Linked DNA regions of Homo sapiens: all the other regions are linked to region 1. The links come from fine-mapping of genetic effects on gene expression. A gene starts in region 1. Each other region holds a variant in brackets. All regions are shown on one strand. Distances are between the middles of the regions.

What was found. PIP is the estimated chance that this variant, and not a neighbour inherited with it, causes the effect.
Region 2: its variant is the best candidate, but not a certain one, in a credible set for the expression of PNPLA7 in whole blood (TOPMed, PIP 0.85).
Region 3: its variant is the best candidate, but not a certain one, in a credible set for the expression of PNPLA7 in prefrontal cortex (ROSMAP, PIP 0.86).
Region 4: its variant is the best candidate, but not a certain one, in a credible set for the expression of PNPLA7 in pancreas (GTEx, PIP 0.63).
Region 5: its variant is the best candidate, but not a certain one, in a credible set for the expression of PNPLA7 in whole blood (TOPMed, PIP 0.83).

Annotation. Positions count from the first base shown.
Region 1 is chr9:137,548,017-137,552,119 of GRCh38, reverse strand. PNPLA7 (patatin like domain 7, lysophospholipase) reads left to right here and starts at 1,718. Exons shown (of 35, transcript NM_001098537.3): 1 at 1,718-1,952. The coding sequence starts at 1,923. It overlaps MRPL41 (mitochondrial ribosomal protein L41), which reads right to left and starts at 241. Exons shown (of 2, transcript NM_032477.3): 1 at 142-241; 2 at 1-46. The coding sequence starts at 38. RefSeq lists a silencer at 1-919 and an enhancer at 2,108-2,609.
Region 2 is chr9:137,643,001-137,647,119 of GRCh38, reverse strand. All of the region lies in intron 1 of EHMT1 (euchromatic histone lysine methyltransferase 1), which reads right to left. Among named protein-coding and RNA genes, the nearest start is that of EHMT1, 26 kb to the right of the region's middle. The variant G/A (reference allele first, on the strand shown) is at 2,515.
Region 3 is chr9:137,841,985-137,846,103 of GRCh38, reverse strand. No RefSeq gene overlaps it. Among named protein-coding and RNA genes, the nearest start is that of MIR602, 5.6 kb to the right of the region's middle. The variant G/A (reference allele first, on the strand shown) is at 2,513.
Region 4 is chr9:137,486,062-137,490,180 of GRCh38, reverse strand. All of the region lies in intron 20 of PNPLA7 (patatin like domain 7, lysophospholipase), which reads left to right. Among named protein-coding and RNA genes, the nearest start is that of NSMF, 29 kb to the right of the region's middle. The variant T/C (reference allele first, on the strand shown) is at 1,771.
Region 5 is chr9:137,622,517-137,626,635 of GRCh38, reverse strand. All of the region lies in intron 1 of EHMT1 (euchromatic histone lysine methyltransferase 1), which reads right to left. Among named protein-coding and RNA genes, the nearest start is that of EHMT1, 5.6 kb to the right of the region's middle. The variant G/A (reference allele first, on the strand shown) is at 2,124.

The sequences.
Region 1 (4,103 bases):
CGGACCAGGCAGCGCGCCGCTGCGGCCAGGACGCCCATGCCGCGCCCTGCGGGAGGAGAGAGCGGGTAGTCGCGGCCCCGGGAACCCGGCCAGCCCCGCCCCTGGCCGCGCGCGGCGCCCGCCCCAATCCGACAGACTCACCTGGACCGGAGACCCCACACGAGCTCCAAGCGGCCCCGGCTCCGGCGCCAACCCGGCCTCGACCTTGCTCCGCTTCCGACCGCTGCGTCGCAGCAAGAGCGGCTCCGATTGGCCGCGGCCGCCGCGTCCAATAGCGGCCCCAATCTGGTAGGGGGTGTGGCCGCGGGGACTCGGCCAATGCGAGGAGCGCGCGGGGCGGGGCGGGGCTCGCGGGGCTGGCGGTGCGGGGCCGGCGGTGCGGGGCTCGCGGGGCGGGGCTCGCGGGGCGGGGCTCGCGGGGCGGGGCTCGCGGGGCGGGGCTCGCGGGGCGGGGCTCGCGGGGCGGGGCTGGCGGATGAGTGATCGCTCTCAGCGCGGTGGTCCCTGGCGTCTCCACTGCCCGCCACTGCCTGTGTTCGTCCGCCAGGTGGCCGGCGGTTTCCCGGGAGCCCAGTCCCCCTGAGGCCGTGAGGTGGCGTCGGGAGGTCGGGGAGGACGCGGGCCCTGGACTCGAGACGGCCGCCGCGTTGACGCCGCGACCCTGCCTTTCTTACCCCTCCGCCGGGCGCGGCTCCTCTGGGCGGAGCCGGCAACCGCGCGGGGAAAGCCCGGGACCTGCAGCCGGGAGGGCCCGGGCTGTCTGTGCTCCCCCGCAGGCCGGGCAGTGGTGTGGGGGGACTCGAGCCCTCGCGGTGCCCAAATTAATCAATAATCTTGGACCCAGCACGTCCGGCTTGCGCACTGAGCCCTCCTGCCCGGTCACCCTCGCAGGCGACCTCTCACCCCACGCGGAAGTCGCCCCCCAGCCGCACCCTCACAATCCGGATCCACCCCCTCCCCAGCTGCACCCCGTCCCCAGCGGCACCCCCACAGCCCAGATCCATCCCCTCTCCAGCTGCACGCCCTTCCCCAGCGGTACCCCCACACCCCAGATCCATCCCCTCCCCAGCTGCACCCCCTCCCCAGCGGCACCCCCACGCCCCAGATCCACCCCCTCCCCAGCTGCACCCCCTCCCCAGCGGCACCCCCACGCCCCAGATCCACCCCCTCCCCAGCTGCACCCCCTCCCCAGCGGCACCCCCACACCCCAGATCCACCCCCTCCCCAGCTGCACCCCCTCCCTAGCGGTACCCCCACTCGCCGGATCCACGCGCTCCCCAGCTGCACCCTCTCCCCAGCAGTACCCCCACACCCCAGATCCACCCCCTCCCCAGCTGCACCCACTCCCCAGCGGTACCCCTACACGCCGGATCCACCCCCTCCCCAGCTGCACCCACTCCCCAGCGGCACCCCCACACCCCAGATCCACCCCCTCCCCAGCTGCACCCACTCCCCAGCGGTACCCCTACACGCCGGATCCACCCCCTCCCCAGCTGCACCCTCCTCCCCAGCTGCATCCCCACACCCCGGATCCACGCCCCGCCAGCGTCACCTCCCCTCCAGCCGTGCTTCTCCAGAAGGCAGCGCTGCCCCCATCCCCGCCGCGCTGGGCCTGGCTCCTCTTGACCTGCTTGGATACGCCCCATCTGGCTGCTGTTCTGGGTTCCGGGACAGCCACGTGAGGGCTGTTTACAGAGGGAAGGAGGTGGCTCCTAGCAGATGACAGACACTTCTCAAAAGACAGCTTTTCTTCCTGGAGAACAGACTTTTTCAGCAGGATTTTCCTTTCAGTGAAACATAATTTGACTTGAAAGGAACCCAGGGAAAAGTGTCCAGGTGTGAGCATGAGCGGGTAGAGGTGTGCCCTTGTTTGCTTCAGGCTGTCTGCTTTTCGCCCCTGACTGTTTTTTCTGTTTCTGGCCATGGAGGAAGAGAAAGATGACAGCCCACAGGTATGTAACTCGGGGGACCAGATGCCTGGATTTCCCAGTTGGGGGGCATTTCTGGACCCAGAGAAGGGTCCTCTTGGCGTCTGCTCTGCCGCGCTCTTTGGCCCCGTGGCTTCTTGGCGCCTGAGGACTGTGGGAGTGGTGGATCTGGCCCCTCTCTGCTGCCTGTCACAGCTGCCAGCACTTGTTAGACGCGCCTGTCACAGCAGACAGCCAGTGGTGGCCCATGGGCATTGTTCACAGCGAGGGCAGCCAGCGGTGGCCCATGGGCATTGCCTGAGGCCTTGTCTTTTCTTCCCCTAAGGTCACAGTTGCTACTTCCAGTTCCTTTAGGACTTTGCCTGATGGTTTTGCTTAGAACCTTTTTCTGTGTTTTTTTTTTTCCCAAGACGGAGTCTCGCTCTGTCGCCCAGGCTGGTGTGCAATGGTGTGATCTTGGCTCACAGCAACCTCCGCCTCCTGGGTTCAGGCAATTCTGCCTCAGCCTCCCGGGTAGCTGGGACTACAGGCACCACGCCCGGCTAATTTTTGTATTCTTAGTAGAAACGGGGTTTCGCCATGTTGGCCAGGCTGGTCTTGAACTTTTTTTTTTTTTTTTTTTGAGACGGAGTCTTGCTCTGTCGCCCAAGCTGGATTGCAGTGGCACGATCTCAACTCACTGCAAGCTCTGCCTCCCAGGTTCACGCCATTCTCCTGCCTCGGCCTCCCAAGTAGCTGGGACTACAGGCGCCCACCACCACGCCCGGCTAATATTTTTTTGTATTTTCAGTAGAGACGGTGTTTCACTGTGTTAGCCAGGATGGTCTCGATTTCCTGACCTCGTGATCCGCCCGCCTTGGCCTCCCAAAGTGCAGGGATTACAGGCATGAGCCACCGTGCCCGGCCTAGTCTTGAACTCTTGACCTCATGATCTGCCCGCCTCGGCCTCCCAAAGTGCTGGGATTACAGGCGTGAGACACTGTGCCCAGCCCTAGAATCTTTTTCTTAGTCAAACATCTGTAGCCACATGGCAAAGGCCTTATTTCCTAAACCAGAACACTGGACCCATTAAAGCAACAGTGAAAAGCTAGAAAAGGCTGAGCCGCTCCACCGCAGGAGAGCCTGTGACCAGGTCACGGGCCATCGCGTGATAGGCCTTCCTTGGATAATCGGTCCCAGAAGCGGTTGCTGGGCTGAGGGACTCACTTCGCTTCCTTAAGTGAGGGACATGGTCGTAGGTGCTTCTCTGCTCCCCACCTGGTTGAGAGTGAGCGTAGGGGTTCCCCTGTCCTGAAGCAGAAGCTCCCAGGGCTTGTATTTGCTTCTGAACCAAGTTCGAAGGGCTCAGCTTTCTGGGCACGTCCTCATTCTGTCTTGGTGCAGAATTGTGTCTTTAAATGCGTTTCTGAGTGCTCTTCTGACTTCCCTGAGTTTTCTTTTTTTTGAGATGGAGTCTCGCTCTGTCGCCCAGGCTGGAGTGCAGTAGCACAATCTCAGCTCACTGCAAGCTCTGCCTCCCGGGTTCACGCCATTCTCCTGCCTCAGCCTCCCAAGTAGCTGGGACTACAGGCACCCACCACCACGCCCGGCTAATTTTTGAATTTTTAGTAGAGACGGGGTTTCACCGTGTTAGCCAGGATGGTCTCGATCTCCTGACCTCATGATCCGCCCGCCTCAGCCTCCCAAAGTGCTGGGATTGCAGGCGTGAGCCACTGCGCCCGGCCCTTCCCTGGATTTTCTGGCACGGATGGGAGTCCTGCTCTCTGCAGTGAGGCGGGGGTGGGTGTTGTTTTAGGCCTTGGCTCTTGTGTAGAAACTTTCAGGCTGAACCAGTGGCTTCCCCTGCCCTATCCGGTTCCTGGCTGCCTGGGAGGAAGGTGTGATGCCAGCAGGAATGGAGAGGGCTGCCTGTCTGGCTGGTGTCGTCTTCTCGTCTTCTCGTTTTCTCTTTCACTTCTTGGAACCACCAGCGTCCTCTGCTGTCGTTCACTCACCATCCTGCCCTCACCCTCTCTTCCCTCCCTCCCGCGGACCTGGACTTCTGAAGTCCTGCTGCTCCAGGAGACTGCAGGACACAGAGCCTTCTCGGCCGCTGCCTCCTTGTTTGGCATGTGAACTGGTGTTGAATGTTCTCAGAATCCAGATGGCTCATAGGGGTTTTGAGCACTGCTCCTG
Region 2 (4,119 bases), 95 kb before region 1:
GAAGGAGGCGGCAGGAAACCAGAAGAGTGCAGTGTTCTAGAAGCCAAACGGAGACAACTAATCCCAGGTTTTTTTTGCTTGAATTATGATAACAAATGCTGGTGAAAGAACCAGTAAGACGAAGGCTGAGAACTAACCAATGACAATGTCTAGGTCAATGGTGACCATAACCAAAAGGGCATCTGAGGAGTAGTGGAGACCAAAGCCTGCTGCAGCGGGCTCAGCCACGTGGGGACTGGAAACAGCACAGGCAGAAGGAAACCTGAGGGACTGGAATTTAAGGTACAGAAAGGTAAGGAAGAAGCTGAACATGAATAGCCGTGTTTTCAAAGACAGTAGGAGATAATGTTAAAGCTGAAAATCAGTTAAGACATCCAACGTTACAAGATTTGCGGCAGTGAGGGGATCAAACCCAGCCTCCAATTCGGCCAGAGCTCATGACAACACACGTGCCTTGCGAGATGTGAAAACAACAGAACTGCGCCACACCTCCCCCAGGCCACCCCAGCCCACATGCACGTGGGCCTCCCCCAGACCACCCCAGACCACCCCAGCCCACACGCTCGGGGGCCTCCCCCAGGCTCCAGGGTTGGGCAGCCAAGGCTGCTTTCCACCTGCTGACTAGCTCCTCTCTCCCACAAAACGGGAGCACTCCTCGGGGCTCCCATTCAGCCCTCTTACTTTCCAGCCCATTGTCCAGAGAATGAGTCCCTCGTCCTCTCCCCGTGGTCACAGGATTCTTGCCCGCAGCACAAACTTGAAATGTTCCTCAGGCCAGGTACCACTGTCCCACAGAAAGACAGGAAATGCCACAGACATCATTTTAAATTTCTAGCATCTACATTTAAAAAGTAAAAATAGGCCAGGCACAGTGGCTCACACCTATAATCCCAACACTTTGGGAGGCCGAGGCAGGCGGATCACCTGAGGCCAGGAGATCAAGACCAGCCTGGCCAACATGGAGAAATCCCATCCCTATTTAAAATACAAAAAGTTAGCTGGGTGTGGTGGTGGGCACCTGTCATCCCAGCTACGCGGGAGGCTGAGGCAGGAGAACTGCTTGAATCCGGGAGACAGAGGCTGCAGTGAGCTGAGATCACACCATTGCACTCCAGCCTGGGCAACAGAGCAAGACTCTGTCTCAAAAAAAAAAGTAAAAATAGAAGTAACTAATTTTAATAAATTGCCTTTAACTCAGTATAGATCCAAAACATTATCAACATGTAACCAATATAAAATAATTAGTACCAAAAGAGTGTGAACTATCGTACTAAGCCTCTGAAATCTAGTGTGCATTTCACATAGCACATCTCAGTTCGATATGGCCATGTTTCAAGGGTCTGAGGCCCACGTGGGGCTGCAGCCACGTTTCTGGAGATCACAGCCACCTCTCCACTCAGCGCTGCAAGTACAAAAGCCAACCCTTCTCTAAGATTCCATTTGGAATCGAGTGAAAAAGACACTTGTGTATCAGTCTGCAGCAGAGATGGAAACACAGACAGCCTTCCTTTAACCACCTACAGGAGGCCCCTCTTCGCTGCTTCTATCACACCCTGTTTATCTCTTTTAATAGCAATTACCAAAGTGTGTAATTGTTTGTCTTTCTCAAAACTAGGACACAAGGGCTTCTGTAAGTACAAGGCAGACGCCATGTGCATTCTCATGTGGCTCCCAGTGCAGAAGCTGGCACACGAAGGCAGTAAGTACTTGTTACAAAAATCAACAAATTAAGGAACACATGAATGGATAAATGGTTCCTGTCTACACTGAGAAGTCAGTTAATTCCAAAAATATTCACCCTGGGCCACAAAAACATATGTAAATCAATAAAGGCGCAAGCCAATTCCGGCCCTTTCTCCTTTTGTATCAGGTTACACAACAATCTATCAAGGCCCTGAAGTGTGCCAGGCAACATTCAGTGGGTTGGGGAACTAATACAGCTAAATAAGCAGGCCGTGGCGGCTCACGCCTGTAATCCCAGCACTTCGGGAGGCCGAGGCAGGCGGATCATTTGAGGCCAGGAGCTCGAGAGCAGCCTGGCCAACATGGCGAAACCCCGTCTCTACTAAAAATACAAAAATTAGCCGGGCGTGGTGACACACACCTGTAATCCCAGCTTCTTGGGAGGCTGAGGCAGGAGGATCACTTGAACCTGGGAGGTGGAGACTGCAGTGAGCTGAGATCGCACCACTGCACTCCAGCCTGGGCAACAGAGGGAGACTGTCTCTTAAAAAAAATAATAATAAATAAATAAATAAATAGAGCCCTAACCTCAAAGAGTTTACAATCTAGCAATTGAGACAACCAAAAGACCAATAATTAAAACACAAAATAAATGTTACATCAAAAGACAAGGTGCTTTGGAAACAATGACTAGATCTCAATCAGGGGCCAGCAAACTACAGACTGCCACCTGTTTCTGTACAAACTGAAAGCTAAGCATGATTTTTAGACTTTTAGATACATAACTCATAAAAAGTATGTGAATGTTTTTGGCCGGGCCCGGTGGCTCAC[G/A]CCTGTAATCCCAGCACTTTGGGAGGCCGAGGCGGGTGGATCACGAGGTCAGGAGTTCAAGACCAGCCTGGCCAATATGGCGAAACCCCGTCTCTATTAAAAATACAAAAATTAGCTGGGCGTGGTGGCATGTGCCTGTAATCCTCCCAGCTGCTCGGGAGGCTGAGGAAGGAGAATTGCTTGAACCCGGGAGGCAGAGGTTGCAGTGAGCCAAAATTACGCCACTGCACTCCAGCCTGGGCAACCAAATGAGACTCCATCTCAAAAAAAAAAAAAAGTATGTGACTGTTTCAAGAGTGATATGAAACTCAAATTCCAGTTTCCAAACACTTCCAGTTTTACCAGCACACAACCACCCCCACTTGTTTACGTATTGCCCGTGGCTGCTTTCCTGCCATAAGAAAGCTGAGCAGCTTCCCAGAGACCACGTATGGGCCTCTTGGTGGGCCATAGTGCTGCTCCGCAATGCACGGCGGGATCAGCCGTGCCGAGTGCCACCTGGTCACCGTACTGCTACTGCCACTTACCAAGACAGCTCACACCCATCGTCAAAACAAGAAGGGAGGAGCGGCCCTCAAGTGCTGTCCCTTTAATCCACACTGCAACTGCAATTGTATGGCAAAGCTCTGTTTACCACGCAATGACACGTCAGACAGGGGTGAGAAGACAACGCATGCTGCAGATGAAGTACTCATCACAAAGTTCCCAAATCCCTGGAAGGCAGCAGTCAAGTCAAAAAAATTAAGAAGCTCAACAAATCCAAATGAGAAAAACGCAAAGAGTTCCACACCTACACACATCACCATCAGGCTGAAACCACAGACAGAGACTCTCAAAAGCAGCGACAGAGGAGCAACGTGTCATGAACGAGGGTCCTGAGAGATGAGCAATGGTTCCTCATCAGAAACCATGGAGTGCAGCCAGACAATACCCTCAGAGTACTAAAAAACCTTTATACGGCCGGGCGCGGTGGCTCACGCCTGTAATCCCAGCACTTTGGGAGGCCAAGGTGGGCAGATCACGAGGTCAGGAGATCCAGACCATCTTGGCTAACACGGTGAAACCCCGTCTCTACTAAAAATACAAAAAATTAGCCAGGCGTGATGGCAGGTGCCTGTAGTCCTGTAGTCCCAGCTACTCGGAAGGCTGAGGCAGGAGGATGGCGTGAACCTGGGAGGCAGAGCTTGCAGTGAGCCGAGATGGCACCACTGCACTCCAGCCTGGGCGAGAGGGTGAGACTCTGTCTAAAAAAAAAAAAAAAAAAAAAACCTTTATACACAAAACTACCTTCATAAAGGAAAAATAAAACATTCCAAGATAAACAAAAGTAGAGAGTTCATCACTGAAAGACCTAAGAGTCCTTCAGGATAAATGAAAGGACACTAGACAGTAACTCAAGCCCACATGAATAGAGAGCACCAAGGCCAGGCACGGTGGCTCATGCCTGCAACCGCAACACCTTGGAAGACTCAAGTAGGAGGGATCTTCTAAGACCAGGAGTTGGAGACCAGCCTGGGCAACACAGTGAGACCCCATCTCTACAAAAAAAAAATTAAAAATCAGCAGGGAATAGTGGCACGCACCCATAGTCCCAACTACTCGGGA
Region 3 (4,119 bases), 290 kb before region 1:
TCCAGTGGGGGCGCGCACAGACAGGGCACGGCTTAGGAGGCTTAGGAGGAATCCTGGGGGACAATGCAACCTCCAGTGGGGGCGCGCACAGACAGGGCACGGCTTAGGAGGAATCCTGGGGGACAATGCAACCTCCAGTGGGGGCGCGCACAGACAGGGCACGGCTTAGGAGGAATCCTGGGGGACAATGCAACCTCCAGTGGGGGCGCGCACAGACAGGGCACGGCTTAGGAGGAATCCTGGGGGACAATGCAACCTCCAGTGGGGGCGCGCACAGACAGGGCACGGCTTAGGAGGAATCCTGGGGGACAATGCAACCTCCAGTGGGGGCGCGCACAGACAGGGCACGGCTTAGGAGGAATCCTGGGGGACAATGCAACCTCCAGTGGGGGCGCGCACAGACAGGGCACGGCTTAGGAGGAATCCTGGGGGACAATGCAACCTCCAGTGGGGGCGCGCACAGACAGGGCACGGCTTAGGAGGAATCCTGGGGGACAATGCAACCTCCAGTGGGGGCGCGCACAGACAGGGCACGGCTTAGGAGGAATCCTGGGGGACAATGCAACCTCCAGTGGGGGCGCGCACAGACAGGGCACGGCTTAGGAGGAATCCTGGGGGACAATGCAACCTCCAGTGGGGGCGCGCACAGACAGGGCACGGCTTAGGAGGAATCCTGGGGGACAATGCAACCTCCAGTGGGGGCCCGCACAGACAGGGCACGGCTTAGGAGGAATCCTGGGGGACAATGCAACCTCCAGTGGGGGCCCGCACAGACAGGGCACGGCTTAGGAGGAATCCTGGGGGACAATGCAACCTCCAGTGGGGGCCCGCACAGACAGGGCACGGCTTAGGAGGAATCCTGGGGGACAATGCAACCTCCAGTGGGGGCCCGCACAGACAGGGCACGGCTTAGGAGGAATCCTGGGGGACAATGCAACCTCCAGTGGGGGCCCGCACAGACAGGGCACGGCTTAGGAGGAATCCTGGGGGACAATGCAACCTCCAGTGGGGGCCCGCACAGACAGGGCACGGCTTAGGAGGAATCCCGGGCTGCAGGCATTCTGAGGCCCAGTGGCCAGGCTTTCGGCCTTTGAAGCAAGATCCACGAGGATGTTTTGAAGGAGCCCCTGGGAGCTGTGGCTTGGATGTCCTGAAGTTCTTGGATGCTGGAGACGTGGTTGTGGGTTGTCTTACATCGGAGGCGAGTAGCTGTAACTCAGAAATGCGTTGCTGTCTGGCTGCCTCCTCTCTATTATTGTACACCTTGAAGGTGAGGTTGATTAATTCCTGTTGTGGGGTTTGAGGGCCGGATTCCAATTTTTGAAGCTTTTTTCTAATGTCAGGAGCTGACTGGGTGATACAATGCATATTAAGAATAAGGCGTCCCTCTGGCCCCTCTGGGTCTAGGGTGGTAAAGCGTCTAAGGGTTACTGCCAAGCGGGCCATGAACTGGGCTGGGTTTTCGTCTTTACCTTGGGTAGTTTCTTTAAGTTTGTCATAATTAACAGTTTTGTAAGCTGCCTTTTTAAGCCCTTCAACTAGGCAGGAAACCATGTAATCTCGCCTAGCTATACCTGGGGAATCTGCCTGGTAGTTCCACTGGGGAACTTCTCAGGGAACTGCTCTGATGCCTTCCGGGAGGTCTGGCTCTTGGAGCCAGTGGTTGTCAGCATGAGATTGGACTAGAGAAAATACTCTTTCCCGTTCATCTGGGGAGAGGGTAGAAGTTAGGATGACATTTAAGGCACTCCAGGTTAAACTGTAGGACAGAGTTAGATGTCGGAATTCCTGTATATATTTAGTGGGGTCTGATGAGAAAGAGCCTAAACGTTGGCTGATTTGGGAAAGGTCTGATAGAGAAAAAGGCGCATGTACCCTGACTATGCCTTCAGCTCCAGCCACCTCTCTAAGAGGAAATTGTTGGGCAGGTGGGGGAGAGCTGGTCGCAGAACGAAACTGTTAACCAGACTGGGTGTGGGAGGGAGGTAATAGAAGGGTTATAGGGTGGAGGAGCAGAGGCTGAAGAAGAGCTGGAGCCTGATTCAGCCTGGCGGGGAGCGACCTGAGGAGGAGCAGTCTGGGAGGAGGTGAGAGGTCAGATGGGTCAGTAGAAAAGGAAGATTCACAAGGCTCAGCGACGCTCGGGGTTGGGACCGAAGGGAAGCCTACGTCGGGCATGAGGTGCGGGTTCATGTCCTGATGTTGACAGCTCGCTGTGGTTACACAGGACCGCCTGTGTGTAGGAAATATTCATGGAAGTATTTGGGGATGATGGGGTACGAAGTCAGGAATTTATTCTCCAGCAGATCAGAGAAAAAAGATTTCTGTATTGTACTTGCAGCTGTTCTGTAAGGTTGAGATTGTTTTGATGTTTTAAAATGTCAACAAATGTTAATAAAGACACGTGCACGTCTATGTTCATTGCAGCACTATTCACAATAGCACGATTCCAAGATGTGGAATCAATCTAAATGCCCACCAGTGGCAGACTGGATGAAAATGTGGTACATAC[G/A]CACCACGGAATACTATGCAGCCATAAAAAAGAATGAGATCATGTCTTTTGTGGGAACGTGGATGGAGCTGGAGGCTATTATCTTTAGCAAACTAATGCGGGAACAGAAAAACAAATACCGCATGTTCTCAGTTATAAATGGGAACTAAATGATGAGGGCTCATGAACACAAAGAACAAGAGACACTGGGACCTACTTAGGAGTGGAGGGTGGGAGGAGCGAGAGGATCAGGAAAAACAACTAATGGGTACTTGGCTTAGTACCTGGGTGATGAAATAATCTGTGCAACAAACCCCCATGACACGAGTTTCCCTGTTTAACAAACCTGCACGTGTGCCCCTGCACCAAAAAGATTTTTTTTTTTTTTTCGAGACAGAGTCTCACTCTGTCGCTCAGGCTGGAGTGCAGTGGTGCGATCTCGGCTCACTGCAAGCTCCGCCTCCCCAGTTCAAGCCATTCTCCTGCCTCAGCCTCCCGAGTAGCTGGGAATACAGGCGCCCACCACCACGCCTGGCTAATTTTTTTGTATTTTTAGTAGAGACGGGGTTTCACCGTGTTAGCCAGGATGGTCTCGATCTCCTGACCTCGTGATCTGCCCGTCTCAGCCTCCCAAAGTGCTGGGATTACAGGCATGAGCCACTGCGCCTGGCCAAGATTTTTAAAAATAAATAAAATACATGTTGGGTCAAAGAAGCCAGAGGCAATGAAGTGCGCACTCCATGGACCCAATTATAGGAAATTCCAGAACAGAAATGTTAATCTATACTGACAGGAACAGATTGGTGTCTGGGGTTCAGGAGTGGTGGCATGGATGACACAGACGGGGATGGTGGTGTGGAGGATACCGGGGGGATGGTGGCGTGGAGGATATGGAGGGGGACGGTGGCGTGGAGGATATGGGGGGATGGTGGCGTGGAGGATACAGGGGGACGGTGGCGTGGATGATACAGAGGGGGGACGGTGGTGTGGAGGATACGGGGGACGGTGGCGTGGAGGATATGGGGGGATGGTGGCGTGGAGGATACAGGGGGACGGTGGCGTGGATGATACAGAGGGGGGATGGTGGTGTGGAGGATACGGGGGACGGTGGCGTGGAGGATATGGGGGGATGGTGGCGTGGAGGATACAGGGGGGGATGGTGGCATGGAGGATACAGGAGGGACGGTGGCGTGGAGGATACGGAGGGGGGACGGTGGTGTGGAGGATACAGAGGGGCATGGTGGCGTGAAGCATATGGGGGGGATGGTGGCATGGAGGATACTGGGGGGGATGGTGGCATGGAGGATACAGGAGGGACGGTGGCGTGGAGGATACGGAGGGGGACGGTGGCGTGGAGGATACGGGGGGACGGTGGCATGGAGGATACGGGGGGACGGTGGCGTGGAGGATACAGGGGGACGGTGGCGTGGAGGATACAGGAGGGACGGTGGCGTGGAGGATACGGAGGGGGACGGTGGCGTGGAGGATACGGGGGGACGGTGGCATGGAGGATACAGGGGGACGGTGGCATGGAGGATACGGAGGGGGACAGTGGCGTGGAGGATACAGGGGGACGGTGGCATGGAGGATACAGGAGGGACGGTGGCGTGGAGGATACGGAGGGGGAC
Region 4 (4,119 bases), 62 kb after region 1:
TCGAGGTTACAGTGAGCTATGATCGCGCCACCGCAGTCCAGCCTGGTCAACAGAGCAAGACCCTGCCTCAAAACACACACACAAAAAGGTGTTTTTCTCTGTCTTTAGTTTTCAGAAATGTGATTTGGAAGTGTCTGAGCATGAATACTTTGGATCTGTCCTGTTTGGGGTTTCTTCGTCTTGGACCCGTAGGTTTATAGCTTTTAACACATTTTGGAAGTGTTCAGTCTATATGTCTTCAAACGATTCTTCCACTCGTGTGCCCCTCCACCTCTTCTGGAAATAAAGTGGCACAAGTGTTAGACCTCGCGTTATTGTCCCCAAGGTCTCTGGGGCACTGCTCATTTTTTAAACCTTTTTTTTCTCTCTCTGATGTTAAGATGGAATTGTTTCTTTTGATCTATCTTCAGGATCTTTGGCTTTTTGTCATCTCGATTCTGCTTTGAGGCCTATCAGAGAGTTTTAAAAAAATGTTCTGTCATCGTGTTTTGGTTCTTCTGTGTGCCTCCTGTTTCTTTGCTAGGACGTTCTCTCTTTGTCTTTGTTTCAGGAGTGTTCAGGATTGCTGGTTCTAGCTGGTAATGATAACAGCTTTATCGTCCTGGAGAAATAATTCCGTCTGTGACATGCGGTCGTTTTTATCTGTGGATTGTTTTTACTCCTCTGGTTCAGATCCTCCTTGCTCTTGGCATACTGGGTCACCATGGATGTGGCCTGGTCACTGTGGACCCATCCTGGTCACTGTGGATTTTGTGTCCTGATGTTTTGAGTGTTAGGCTATGAGACTCTGGTTCCCATTTAAGTCTTCAATTTTCACTGTTAGTGTGCTTGTATTCACAGGGCATGTCCTGGCCAACGTTTGTGGAGTGTGGTTTGAACGTGAACTGACCCTGGTCTGCCTACTAGGTGCTGCCCAGGCCCAGTGTGAAGGCTGCATTCTGCGCCATCTTCAGCTCTCAGACCCGAACACCTGACCCTGGCACAGGCTGCGTCTTCATTACAGATTCGAGGCTTTCTTGATCTCCTACCTCTAGTTGGCAGGAGGTGGGGCCTCCTCTGCTTTCTCTGCAGGGGTGCACAGTTGGGGGGATGTCTGCTGGTCAGGGGGTGCACAGTTGGGAGGGATGTCTGCTGGTCAGCGGGTGCACAGTTGGGGGGATGTCTGCTGGTCAGTGAGTAGACAGTTGGGATGTCTGCTGGTTAGGGGGTACACAGTTGGGAGGCATGTCTGCTGGTCAGAGGGTGCACAGTTGGGGGGATGTCTGCTGGTCAGTGAGTAGACAGTTGGGATGTCTGCTGGTTAGGGGGTACACAGTTGGGAGGGATGTCTGCTGGTCAGGGGGTGCACAGTTGGAGGGATGTCTGCTGGTGTGGGCGGTGGACAGTTGGTGAAGAGGTTTCCTGCTGTGGGTGGTGGACAGTTGGGAGGATGCTGGCTGGTCGGGGGGTGCACAGTTGGGGGGGGATGTCTGCTGGTGCTTGCTTGGTGCCAGTCAGTGTCCCTAGAGGCAGCTCCCATGGGGAGGGAGGGACAGACCCCTCCGTCTGTGGCAGCCATGTGGCTGGGAAGCAGACTCTGCTTCTTTCTTGGCCTGAGTCAAGTGGTTCCTCCATGAGTCCGAGGTCCCCGGCCAGCCTGCCTTCCTCTCCATCCTTTGGAGTCTTGCGAGAGCTGCCTCGAGCTCTGTCCCTCTCTGATCATGACTGGTGACAGGTGGCCTGTGTCTGCTCCACCTCCCTTCTGGCCCAGAGCCAGAACCTCACCAGTGC[T/C]TTTTCCCAAGGCTAAGGCCATATGGAACTAGCAATGGCCTCCCCCATTCCGCCTCAAATGAGGACTCTGACACCTCAGTCCCTGGAGAGGCGAGAGGAAAGGGATTCCCAAGGAAAAGCTGCAGGAAAAATAAAAATAAATCCACATCAGAGAGCCACGTTCGGGCCGAAGCTCGGGACGAGACATCAGACCGCGAGAGCCGCGTTCGGGCCGAAGCTCGGGACGAGACATCAGACTGCAAGTGAAGCTCGGGACGAGACATCAGACCACGAGAGCAGCGTTCAGGCCGAAGCTCAGGATGAGGAGGCGGTTCTCCGTCTTTCTGTGCTCAGCAGCACTTTGGTGTGTGTGTGCATTGTTTGTTTGCTATCTGGGAGTTATTTCCTCCTGATTATAGAAGCCACCTGCCTTCCACTCAGCGCCTAGAGGCGGAGACACATCATCTGGGCCTGAGTCCCCCGCTCCTCCCGTGTGGCCAAGGCTCAGCTGCAGTGAGGGGCTGAAGTGCGTGCGGTGAAGGTGATGCTGGGGACACCTCGCAGGGCGTGCCAGGTTGTGGTGGTGGCCCAGGCTCCTGAGATGCCCCTGACAGGCAGGTGGAGGCTGGATGGGACGGCCTCTCGGGGGCCAGCTGGGGTTGGGTAGAACTGGAGGCTCTGTGGCTGGCACAGCCGGTTCCGTGCCGGTGTGGCTGGTTCCCCCAGAGGAGCAGAGGCTGCCAGGAGGAACACGTGTGGAGGGTTTTATTTTGCTTCATTTTTCTTGTCTGTCATTGTGGAGTTTTATCACAAAGGCTGTGTAGGCTGCAAAAAGACCTAAGAGCCCCCAGGCACGAGATGAAGACGTGGGCGCCTCCCTCTTACAGCTGCTCAGGTGGTGCTGAGGCGCCAGTGCCCCGGTTCTTTTCCTGCACAGACACAGCTGCACATGCGTCAGGCAGGGTCCTTTACTGGGGCTGCCGGTTTGGGTATTTACTCCAGGGCTGGGGTCCCCTCCAGGGGTCCATGAGCCCCACGGCGACACTTGGCCAGCCCTGCACTCCAGGCCGGCACTTTGGGCCACTCAGCTCCAAGCGCTTATCCCGACCAGGGCCCGGTGTGGATGCCTCTGCACGTCTCCAGCGCTGCTTGGTCACAGCCCTTGGCAGAAGCTGGGTGCGGTCTGTGAACAGCTGGGGATGCAGCTGGGCTTTGCAACCTCCAGGCAGAGATGGGCACTGGACACTGAGCCCTTGGCAGCCGGTGCGCAGCACGCAACCGTCCATCCCTGGCTTACCTGCTGGGGCCAACCAAGCACTGGGCCCTGTCGGAAGCTGGCACCGTGCTCAGGAAGCCAGTCAGGAAAGAACCTTCTCCTAGAGCTGCAGTCGAGTTGGGTCAGGGATGAAATTGGACCAAGAAGGCAAAAGAGATGGCTCAGAAGGGCGGGGGGAGGGGCAGGGGCACGCAGGTGGTGGGGCAGCGCTCCCTGAGGAGGTCAGGACCCTTGGGGCCAGGAAGAGAGCTGTGTGGTGTGGGGGTCACCAGCAGCTCTCAGGGACCGCAGATGGGCTGAGGCTGCAGACTCTGGCTTGTTCTGAGTGGGGAGGGGCACCAGGGGCTTTGAGCAAAAAAGGCTCCGGGCAGACTTGGGCGTCGAAGGCCAGCTCCGGCCACTGTGCACAGAGCGTCCTCTCAAGCAGGCGGCTGAAGCCACCCCAAGGCTGGGCGGTGGAGGCCCAGGGCTCCCGGTGCTGAGTTGGACTGAGGGCGGGGACTGAGCTTTGGTGGGTCGGGTAGGAGCCTGGGGCCGGAGGTGGGGGCCGAGTCCGAGGGAGGATCTGGGGCTGTGTGAGTCTTGGACACTCATTCGGGATGTGGGATGGGCAGCATCATTTATCTGTTTCTGCCTGCATACAGGTACGGGTGTTTTTCTTTTGGGAGGCCTTGAGTATTTATTTAATAATGGAATCACATTTATAAACCACTCTGCAGCTTTCCTGCTCAGCAGCACGTCATCAGCTATTTTCCTGTGAGCACATGATTGCCGGCTGTGCGCTGGTTCTCCGAGCCATGTTCCCCGTTCACAGGCTCTTACCCGCAGTGCTGCCACGGCGCCGTGTGCATCCCAGGATCTTGCAGGTGTCCGCTGGCCGCCGTCTGCAGGGAGTGGCCCTTAAGCCCTCACTTGGTTCTGTGTCCCCAGGCTTGCTCTCCTGGCCTCTTCCCTCACCATGCCGCGTCCCCTTACTCTGACCTTGGCCAATCAGGACCTGCGTGTCTGGTGGATTTTGGAAGCCACCTCACTGGGGACGGGAGACATAGGCCAGGGGACAGCCTGTGAGAGGGCTGGGCCACGGGGACTGCAGA
Region 5 (4,119 bases), 75 kb before region 1:
GAAAGGTTACATCATAGAAGAAAGACTAAGAGATAAGACAGCAAAGAGGAACGAATGCAGGGAAAACACAAAAAATGAAGGAAACAACTTTTTTTTTTTTTTTTTTGGTTAGAGACAGTCTCTCTCACTCTGTCACCCAGGCTGGAGTGCAGTGGTGTGATCATGGCTCACTGCAGCCTCAACCTCCCGGACTCAAGCAATCCTCCTGCCTCAGCCTCCTGAGTAGCTGGGATTTCAGGCACGCACCAGCTGGTCATGGTGGTGCATGCTGGAAGTCCCAGATTTTAGGGTCTTGCTGTGTTGCACAGGCTGAGACATTTTTTAAATAGTTTTTTAATAACTTTAACTGTAATTTTAAAATTTTAATTGTAATTAAAATAAATAAGCAAAGATACTATATATATAAAACAAGAACAGGAGATACTAAAAAGAATAGAAAACAGTAAAGAATATAAAAATATAACAACTGGGCCAGGCGTGGTGGCTCACGCCTGTAATCTCAGCACTTTGGGAGGCCAAGGCGGGTGGATCACCTGAGGTCAGGAGTTTGAGACCAGCCTGACCAACATGCAGAAACCCCAACTCTACTAAAAAAAAAAAAAAAAATACAAAATTAGCCAGGCTTGGTGGTGCATGCCTGTGATTCCAGCTACTCGAGAGGCTGAGGCAGGAGAATCACTTGAACCCGGGAGGCAGAGGTTGCAGTGAGCCGAGATCGCCCCACTGCACTCCAGCCTGGGCAACAAGAGCAAAACTTCGTCTCAAAAAAAAACAAAAACAAAACAAAACAAAAAATATATATATAAATAACAACTGAAGTTAAAAATTCGATTAAAAAAATTGAGAAGTGGTCAAAAATGCTCCCCCAAAATAGAACAAGACCAAGACATGACAAGAAAATATACTTAAAATCAGAAAACTAAATACAGGAAGTCCAACATTCAACTAAAGGAAACGGAAAAGGAGAACACAGAGAAAACAGTAAAGAATAAACTGTCGGCCACACACGGTGGCTCACACAGGTAATCCCAGCACTTTGGGAGGCCGAGGCGGGCAGATCACTTGAGGTCAGGAATGTGAGACCAAACTGGTCAACATGACAAAACCCCATCTCTACTAAAAATACAAAAATTAGCCAGGCATGGTAGCACGTGCCTGTAGTCCCAGCTACTTGGAAGCTGAGGCAAGAGGCTTGCTTGAGCCCAGGAGTTCAAGACCAGCCTGAGCAACATAGTGAGACTGTCTCTCTCCAACAACAACAACAACAACAAAAAACCTCCTATAATGAAAGGGTGTCAATCTTCAGATTTCACAGCTACTTAGGCACCTGCATAATACATAACAAAAGGCTAGCACTAAACGCATGATAAATATTAGGAAAATCACGGATGCAACGATCCTAAAGGTTCGGCAAGGGAATAGTGCTTGCAAACGGTTAAGAATGAAATTGGGCCTTGCCAGCAAGGTGGCCCACGCCTGGAATCCAAGCACTTTGGGAGGCTGAGGCGGGTGGATCACCTGAGGTCAGGAATTTTAGACCAGCCCAGCCAATATGGCGAAACCCCATCTCTACCGAAAATACAAAAATTAGCGGGGCGGGGTGGCAGGAGCCTGTAATCCCAGCTACTTGGGAGGCTGAGACAAGAGAATCACTTGAACCCAGGAGGTGGAGGTTGCGGTGAACCCAATCGCGTCACTGCACTCCAGCCTGGGTGAAAAGAGCAAAACTCCATCTCAAAAAAAAAAAAAAGAAGAATGAAACTGGGCCAGGCTCGGTGGATCATGCCTTTAATCCCAGAACTTCAGGAGGCCGAGTTCAAGACCAGCCTGGGCAACATGGCAAGGCCCTGTCTCTACAAAAACAGAAAAATCACTGCCGGGAACAGTGGCTCACGCCTGTAATCCCAACACTTTGGGAGGCTGAGGCGGATGGATCATTTGAGGTCAGGAGTTCGAGACCAGCCTGGCCAACATGGTAAAACCCCATCCCAACTAAAAATACAAAAATCAGCTGGAGTCCAGGCATGGTGGCTCAAACCTGTAATCCCAGCACTTTGGGAGGCTGAGGAAGGTGGATCACTTACTTGAGGTCAGGAGTTCGAGACCTGCCTGGCCGATATGGC[G/A]AAACCCTGTCTCTACTAAAATTACAAAAATTAGCCAGGCGTGGTGGTGCCCACCTGTAATCACAGCTACTCGGGAGGCTGAGGCAGGAGAATTGCCTGAACCGGGCAGGTTGCAGAAAGACAAGATCACACACCACTGCATGCCAGCCTGGGCAACTGGATGCCAGACTGGGTGAAACCATGTCTCAAAAAAAAAAAAAAAAAAGAGGCCGGGCATAGTGCCTAATGCCTGGCCTGTAATCCTAGCACTTTGAAAGGCTGAGGTGGGCAGATCACAAGGTCAGGAGTTCAAGACCAGCCTAGCCAATATGGTGAAACCCCGTCTCTACTAAAAATACAAAAAAATTATCTGGGCGTGATGGTACACACCTGTTAATGCCACCTACTCAGGAGGCTGAGCCAGGAGAACCACTTGAGCCCAGGAGACGGAGGTTGCAGTAAGCCGAGATGGCGCCACTGTACTCCAGCCTGGGCAACAGGGTAAGACTCCATCTCAAAAAAAAAAAAAAAAAGAAAGAAAGAAAAATCAACCGGGTATGGCGGCACACACCTGCCGTCCCAGGTACTACTCAGGGCACTGAGGCAGGAAGATTACTTCAGCCCGGGAGGTCAAGGCTGCAGAGAACTATCATTGAACCACTCCTCCAGACTGTCTCAAAAAGAAAAAAGACCAAACCAGACTTCTCAAGAGCAACAATGAAAACTGAAAGATATTGGAGCTATGACTTCAAAATGACTTTCCAACCTACCAGCCAAACTTACTAAGCGCACGGGCAGAATAAAGACATTTGCGGCCGGGTGCGGAGGCTCACTCCTGTAGTCCCAGCACTTTAGGAGGCCGAAGTGGGCAGGTCACCTGAGGTTGGGAGTTCAGGAGCAGCCTCGCCAAGAAGTTGAAACCCCGTCTCTACCAAAAATACAAAAATTAGCCAGGCACAGGCGTGGTAGCAAGCACCTGTAATCCCAGCTACTTGGGAGGCTGAGGCAGGAGAATCGCTTGAACCCAGGAGGCGGAGGCTGCAGTTAGCAGAGATAGTGCCACTGCACTCCAGCCTGGGCGACGGAGCGGACCTCCATCTCAAAAAAAAAAAAGAGTAAATACATTTTCAGACACGCAAACCCCAAAAGTTCACCGCTTACCACACCTTCCTGGCTAGCTAACGGAGAGTGTGTTCCATCACCAGGAGGGAATAAACAGTGAGCAGCATCAGACACAGGGAAAGGTGAGGAGACTCCTTTGGATGATGCTGTGTACCAGGCAGAGGGAACATGCATTCTTTTTTTTCTTTTTTTTTTTTTTGAGACGGAGTCTTGCTCTGTCGCCCAGGCTGGAGTGCAGTGGCATGATCTTGGCTCACTACAAGCTCCACCTCCCGGGTTCACGCCCTTCTCCTGCCTCAGCCTCCCGAGTAGCTGGGACTACAGGCGGCCGCCACCACACCCGGCTAATTTTCTTGTATTTTTAGCAGAGACAGGGTTTCACTGTGTGTTAGCCAGGATGGTCTCGATCTCCTGACCTCGTGATCCACCCACCTCAGCCTCCCAAAGTGCTGGGATTACAGGTGTGAGACACCGCGCCTGGCTGTATTTTTTTTTTTTTTTTTTTGAGACAGGATTTTGCTCTGTCACCCAGGCTGCAGGGCAGTGGCACAATCACAGCTCACTGCAGCCTTGGCCTCCTGGGATCAAGCGATCCTCCCACCTCAGCCCCTCAAGTAGCTGGGACTACAGGCACATACCACCACCACACCCAGCTAACTTTTTTACTTCTAGTAGAGACAAGGTCTCACTCTGTTGCCCAGGCTAGTCTCAAACTCCTGGGCTCAGGGGATCCTCTCATCTCGGCCTCCCAGGCATGAGCTGCTGGCCCTGGCCAAGAACATACATTCTGATTGGGGCAGGATGAACATAAGAGAACAAAAATCTTCTCTAATCTAAATCTTACACTAATTCACCATTAATGGAAGTCCATAGTCGACCCCTAAAGTTGGTGAAT